2 linked regions of the Homo sapiens genome follow. The protein of the gene in region 2 interacts with the protein of the main gene of each other region in a pairwise test. Each region holds a gene or a part of one and is shown on either strand. Other genes may lie near its edges. The genes, in order: USP13 and SPRR2D.

Region 1 (3,825 bases), on a different chromosome or scaffold from region 2:
GGTAGCATGTGGATAGGAGAGTGGAGAGTAGCTAAGACAAGAAGCGACAGTTTCCTCTTTCACACTAGAATATCCTGTTGTGCTCTGTAGCATCAGACATCGATGAGTCATCAGTGATGCAGCTGGCCGAGATGGGTTTCCCGCTGGAAGCATGTCGCAAGGCTGTGTACTTCACTGGAAATATGGGCGCCGAGGTGGCCTTCAACTGGATCATTGTTCACATGGAAGAGCCAGGTAGGTGGCGAGAAAATGGAATGGCTTTGGAGTCTGATGTGACCCTCAGTGATGCTGAGTCCTGGTCCTTCCAAGGTCCCTGTGGATGTATCCCTAGAAAATGACTTTATAGTTCCTAATCTCCTGCAGTGGAGGAGAAAGCCAGTCTTTTTCTTCTTCTTTTTTTTTTTAAAAACAGCAGCTTTAGGCCAGGCGTGGGGGCTCATGCCTGTAATCCCAGCACTTTGGGAGGCCAAGGCAGGCGGATCACGAAGTCAAGAGATGAAGACCATCCTGGCCAACATAGTGAAACCCCATCTCTACTAAAGATACAAAAATTAGCTGGGCATGGTGGTGCGTACCTGTAGTCCCAGCTACTCAGGAGGCTGAGGCAGGAGAATCGCTTGAACGCAGGAGGCGGAGGCTGCAGTGAGCCAAGATTGCACCACTGCACTCTGGCCTGAGTGACAGAGCGAGACTCTGTCTCAAAAAAACAAACAAACAAAAAAACAACAAAAAAAACCCCAAACAGCTTTATTGAGATATAATTCATCCCTTTAAAGTGTATAAGTCAGTGGCAAAAAGACCAATAGAAAGATACGGGATATACTTCTAACTAAGCGATGATGAAAATTTGAAATGGAAACATGGGCATGAAGAAATGGAGGATGTTTAGTTAGCTTTTTCTTTTATCTACTTTATTAAGCTATAATGCATATATTCATCTGTTTAAAGTGTACATTTCAATGGTTTTTCATAAATTCACAGTTGTGTAACCATTACCACTATCAAATTTTAGAACATTTTGTACCCTTCAAAAGAAATCTCATACATAATAGCAGTCACTCCCCATTTTCCTGCTCACCCCAGCCCCTGGCAACCACGAATCTGTTTTCTGGATCAAGGGATTTGCCTGTTTTGGACATTTCATATAAATGGAGTCATATAATAAAAGGTCGTTTGTGTTTGGTTTCTATCACTTAGCATAGTGCTTTCAAGATTCATCTATGTTGTAGCATGTGTCAGTACTTCATTCCTTTTTACGGTAAAATAATAGTCTGTTGGGTCGGGTTTGGTGGCTTACGCCTGTAATCCCAGCACTTTGGAAGGCCAAGGCAGGAGGATCATTTGAGGTCAAGAGTTCAAGACCAGCCTGGCCAACATGGTGAAACCCCATCTCTATTAAAAATGCAAAAATTGTCTGGGCATGGTGGCGGGCACCTGGAGTCTCAGCTACTTGGGAGACTGAGGCAGGAGAATTGCTTGAGCCCAGGAGACGGAGGTTGCAGTGAGCTGAGATCACGCCACTGCCCTCCAGCCTGGGCAACAGAGTGAGACTCCATCTAAAATAATAATAATAATAACAATAATAATAGTCTATTTTATGGGTATACTATATTTTATTAATCTTTATCAGTTCATGGACATTTGGGTTATTTACATTTTTTGGCTTTTATGAACAATGCTGCTATAAACATTTTTTACAAGTTTTTGTGTGGATGGACATTTATTTTTACTTCTCTTGAGTGGAATTGCCATGTCATATGGTAACTCTATATTTAATTTTGAGGAACGACCAAACTGTTTTACACAGTGGCTGAACCATTTTACATTTCCACCAGTAATGAATGTGAGTTCCAATTTCTCCATATCATCACTAACCCTTATTATTATCTTTTTTATCATACCCATCCCAGTGGGTATGAAGTGGTATCTTGTGGTTTTGGTTTGCATTTTCCTAATGACTAATGATGTTGAACAACTTTTCGTATGTTTATTGACTGTATATCTTATTTGGAGATATGTCTATTCAAATTCTTTGCCCATTTCTAATGAAGTTATCCTTTTATTATTGAGTTCTAAGAGTTCTTTACAAATTCCAGATACGAGTTTCTATGAGATATATGATTTGTGTTTTCCCCCCCATTCTGGTGTTTTTTCACTTTCTTGATGGTATCCTTTGAAGCACAAACATTTTTAATTTTGATGATGTCCAATTTATCTTTTTTTTCTTTTATCACTTGTGCTTTTTGTGTTGTAAATAAGAAACCATTGCCTAATCCAATGGCAAAGACTTACTCCTGTGTTTTCTTCTAAGATTATTATAGTTTTAGCTCCTATATTTAGGTCAATGAGCCATTTTGAGTTAATTTTGTGTATGATGTGAGGTGAGGGTCTGACTTTATTCTTTTGTATGTGGATATCCAGTTGTCCCAGCATCATTTGTTGAAAATAATGTCCTTTCCCCACTGAATGGTCTTGTTGAAAATCAGTTAACCACAGGTATATGGTTTTATTTCTGGAATCTCAATTCTATTTAATCGATCCATATGTCTGCCTATATACCAGTACCAGACTGTCTTTTTTTTTGAGACAGAGCCTTGCTCTCTTGCCCAGGCTGGAGTGCAGTGGTGCAATCTCAGCTCACTGCAACCTCCGCCTCTTGGGTTCAAGCGATTCTTGTGCCTCAGCCTCCCAAGTAGCTGGATTACAGGTGTGCACCACCATGCCCTGCTAATTTTTGTATTTTTAGTAGAGACAGGATTTTGCCATGTTGGCCAGGCTGGCCACGAACTCCTGACCTCAGGCGATCCACTCGCCTTGGCCTCCCAAAGTGCTGGGATTACAGGCATGAGCCACTGCGCCTGGCCCAGACTGTCTTGATTATTATAACTTTGTAGAATCATGTTTTTCCTTGTTAGTGTTGTTTCAGGACAAAAAAAAAAAAAAAAAAAGGAAAAGACTTGGGTGTGGTTATTTTTCTCAGATTTTGCTGAGCCGCTGACCATGCCTGGTTATGGAGGGGCAGCTTCTGCTGGAGCCTCTGTTTTTGGTGCTTCTGGACTGGATAACCAACCTCCAGAGGAAATCGTAGCTATCATCACCTCCATGGGATTTCAGCGAAATCAGGCTATTCAGGCACTACGAGCAACGGTGAGCATGAGAGACTGTGTGTGTGTGTGTGTGTGTGTGTGTGTGTGAATTTATTTCTGTAGCAGTTGAGACTTTCCAATGTACTTTGATCATTTTGATTCATGTTTGATTCATCTAACTGTGAATCTCATCATAGCCCATAAAGATTTATTTGCATATTATAAATATAAAGCTAAAATGAATGATTTTCACACAGCGAATGAGATAAATAAATCTGGGGTAATATGAGCAAACTGAAAGAAACTTGATATCATCTTGAATGTTTGTTAACAGGGGGTCAGAAATTTGACTTGGAGGCTGCTTGTGGCCCTAGAGGAAAGAGGGATGCATGAAATTCCATGTTCAGTAAGAAGTCCTTTAGGAGATAGAATGCTTTTCTGATACCAAGACCTTGGGTAAATGTCTCTTAAAAGTCCTCATAGAAAACTGAATGGCTCCTTGGAATTCTCTGCTGCTGTTTCTCTCTGCAGAAAGAGAAGGTTCTTCTGGTAGCCATGAACTTCTTGATACCAAGAAACAAGGGACTCTGAAACTACAGGGTAGACAATTCCCTTCTGCAGTGCTGATATCTGTTTAATCTTGAGGGAAGGTACTTAAAAAACAAAACAAAACCCATCCTTCCTGGTCACACCATAATCCATTTTTGAGTAGATATCTGCTCTCAATTACTTCTTGCCT
Region 2 (3,660 bases):
ACAAAAGACATGATCTAATTTTTTTATAGCTGTGTAGAATTCATGGCGTATATTTATCACATTTTTAAAATCCACTCTACTATTGATGGGCTTTTGGGTTGATTCTATGCCTTTGCTATAGTGAACACGGCTGCGATAAATATACACATGCATGTGTCTTTATGGTAGAATGATTTATATTCCTTTGGGTATATACCCAATAGTGAGACTGCTGGGTCAAATAATAGTTCTGTTTTAATGATGATGTACTGCTGCTAATAGACTACTATCAAATGAGTAGTAATGATATGTCAGAAATTGTGTCAACTGAATTCCTGATATTAATTCCATTTTATGCCTAAGATAAGTTAGTGATATAAATATTATTTTCCACATTTTAAAATGAAGAGATTAAAATTCTGATTGATTTGTTCTTCAAATCAATCAAACACTAATTAAGGAAAATAAAAGGGGTTTAAAATGATATAAAAATAATCATTGTTATGGCCCAAAATTCAGATAACAATAATTGTGAAATCCTGGTCCTGGGGATCAGAGAAAGGTAGAACAAAATCCAAATAATCATATAATATTACTAATAAAGCAGATTCTAAAAGAAACAAAAGATCCATTCACAAATATATATGCATAGATACTTTATTCAGGGAGTGAAAGATAAATGACAATTGCAAAGGTGGTAGAAGCTCATGACCAGGTGACAGACAGACACAGAACACATCAACAGAATTGTCTGATGGTTCCCAGGGAGAGAGCTGCTGCTCTTTCTTCCGAAGCTCTGGGAGCTGGCACAGCTGAGGACTTCCTTTTCTTAGCTCCACCTGGACAGTGGCAGTATGGCAGCCTCAGAAAGGGAATCTTTTGCTGTCACAGATCATCACAGGCAGGCCACAGGTTAAGGAGAAAGAAGCTCCCTGTGCATCCATGGAAGGCTTTGGTGAGAAGATGCAAGTGGAGCTGTGGAACGAGGTGAGCCAATTATCCTTATCCTCTCATGCTCCTGATGAATCCTGAAGCTGTTACTTGCTCTTGGGTGGACACTTTGGCTGGCAGGGTGGGGAAGGTGTCACAGGAGGATATTTCTGCTGGCACTGCTGAGGTGGGCAGGGCTGTGGACACTTTGGTGATGGGCAGGGCTCAGGGCACTTCGGGGGTGGACATGGCTCTGGGCACTTTGGCGTGGGGCACACAGGAGGTGGCTGGCAGGGCTGCTTGCACTGCTGCTGTTGATAAGACATCCTGCTGGAGTCTCAGGATCTGAAAGAAATGATACAACAGTGTTTGTGGGAAGGGACTCCTCCAGAGAGAGAAGCTAATGCTTATGTAATACCATGAAATATTATTTCCCCATCTCCAAGAAATTATTTAAACTCTTAACTGCCTTTTCAAGACTACTTCGTTTCTCCCTTCCACTTTAGCAAATTGCTTCATTGGCCCTGGGAAATCTTGTGTTTTCTCATACAATTTTTCCAAAGAAAATATCTCTGTAGTAATGAACCAAGCATGTTATTTCTGTGAAAATAACATCTTTAGGAAAGGCAGTGACAAGTTCAGATACCATGAGCAATCTCACAAGCCATTTCTCTTATCATTATCTGTAGTAAAGTCCCAGTGGGTTGACTTGAGCACAGAACAAAGGGCTGTTTGGGAAGGATTGCAGGCTCTTGGCACCTGTTAAGACACAAACCTTTGAAAAAGACACCAGGAAAACATGGGGAAAAAATACTTTGTTCTTTTTTCTTCTTCAATTCAAAGCTTTCCTATTAACTTCTCTGTCCGTATGGACACCTAACTGTATACAAGAAACAAGCTAAAATAGCATATCACTGTACTCTAAATCTAAATTTCCATCTACTAAGTAGAATCAAACCCATGGTTACAGAATTGTATCAACCAAACTTGCTGTTTTCAGATTAAATTCAATATTTCAGGTCACAAAGAACTGAGGAACTCAAGGACTCACACTCACCAGGTTCTCCAAAGCAGATCGGTGCTAGAGTACCAGGAGTTTAAGAGTTGTGCAGCAGGGAACCTCTTTATAGGACGTTCTGCCCCACCCAGTGGGAAGTGGAACTGCCTAAAACTGGGCTGGTCCAGCAATGTCCAAAGTAAAATGCAAATGTATCCATATCTGGCATGAGAGGCATTCTCAAACTAGGAAATATCCTGTTCTGGGATCTCCCCACTGGGTTAAGTGCTCATGAGTCACAGAGAACCTGCCTTAGATCTCAGTTTCAGTGACTTTCGTCAGAGAGATAATTGGAGGGATTCTCTAACCGGTTGTCAAGGGCTCTCTTTCTTGATTGGGAACAATGATCCCTTCCTATCTTACCTCCCCTGAGTCATAAAACTTCCTGTCCTGATCCACTCTAGCTGAATGCCATATTGTTGTACATGAACCCAACTCTACCTCTACTTTCCTCATACAGTTGGCCAATGTGCTAGAAGGAAGGAGAGACTTAACAAAGGCCTGAGCTAAGCTTTTTCTTTGCTAAGTTCCATGACAACAGGCATGTCACCTCTCCTCCCTGGGATTATAAACAGGGGACAATAATACTTACCTCTGGGTTTGCAGGCTGACCACATTGTGCTATCTGCTGACCCTGTTCAAGACTGAAATTTTCTTTGCCACCTTTTTCTCAGATAAAACCTCAGATTTTTACCTATATTCCTTTCCTCTTTGAAGCTGTCTTCTGCACCACATTTGTAGCTTCTGCACCACATTCGTAGAGGCACTTGCATCCCAGGACAGATTTGAGAGTGAGATCTAGTCTCCACAGCACGTTTGCTACTTGGTGCCATCAAGGATGTGTACTACAGCCTTTTTATTTATAAAAAGTAATGGAGAGAAGGAAACTAAAGTTACAAGTATTGACTCAAAATCTATGTATGGAACCATGCATATATGGTTCCCTGTGAACATCCTATAGAGAACAAGCTGCATAGACATTATCATATGTAAATAATTAGAAGTAGGTGTGCAGAGTGAGGAAGGTAAGAGCACTTAAAGTTTAACTCAAGGGGAAAATACAAACAAAGGGTAATCCAATATGTATTCTTCCTCTCTATTTCCAAACAGGTTTTAGATGTTTCTCAGTGTTTTTTAATTTGTTTGCATGTTCTTCCTTTGTCTTTTCCATAAACCTTCTAGTCCCACAAACTGCTAGATTATCAACTCATACCCAATGTATACCTGTCATCTGTCCATTTTGGTACATATTGTTCACTTAACACATATGTTGTCAATGCATTTAGTGATTGTCCTTTCACAACTTTTTTAAATGCTTCCTACAATCAGTGAGCCTTTCTAAGTACTGTATATTAAACATTTAAAGTGATGTTGCTACTGCTTCCTTATCTGGACCATTAATCGGGAAGCTTCCCAAGAACATGGTTTTATAAGTGAATAAGAAGAAAGGAGAATGAGGAAGAGGAAAGACTCAAAATCACTGGAGCAGTCACCAACTGTGCTCCAGGAAGGGCAGAGTGTTGAATCAAGCCAGCATCACATCCCTCAGTTAAGTAGGTTAGGTTCCCAGAACAGCTGTTGCTCCTGTCAGTAAGGAAGAGCTTTTAGCCAAGATCACCACTGGCCAGGACACTACAGAAATAGAGCCATCATGTCAGCACCCTGAGGCCAGGTGATTACAAATGGTGTTCTCA

Evidence for each region.
Region 1: the proteins of SPRR2D (region 2) and USP13 interact in a two-hybrid assay, tested with the Homo sapiens proteins (one large-scale study listed by IntAct).

Annotation. Positions count from the first base shown.
Region 1 is NC_000003.12:179,761,022-179,764,846, forward strand, and holds part of USP13 (ubiquitin carboxyl-terminal hydrolase 13), read left to right. Parts: intron 1-90; coding exon 91-234; intron 235-2,980; coding exon 2,981-3,147; intron 3,148-3,825. UniProt on the Homo sapiens protein: Deubiquitinase that mediates deubiquitination of target proteins such as BECN1, MITF, SKP2 and USP10 and is involved in various processes such as autophagy, endoplasmic reticulum-associated degradation (ERAD), cell cycle progression or DNA damage response.
Region 2 is NC_000001.11:153,039,112-153,042,771, forward strand, and holds SPRR2D (small proline-rich protein 2D), read right to left. Parts: upstream 2,010-3,660; 5' UTR 1,967-2,009; exon of another isoform or gene 1,961-1,966; intron 1,255-1,960; 5' UTR 1,236-1,254; coding exon 1,017-1,235; 3' UTR 621-1,016; downstream 1-620. UniProt on the Homo sapiens protein: Cross-linked envelope protein of keratinocytes. It is a keratinocyte protein that first appears in the cell cytosol, but ultimately becomes cross-linked to membrane proteins by transglutaminase.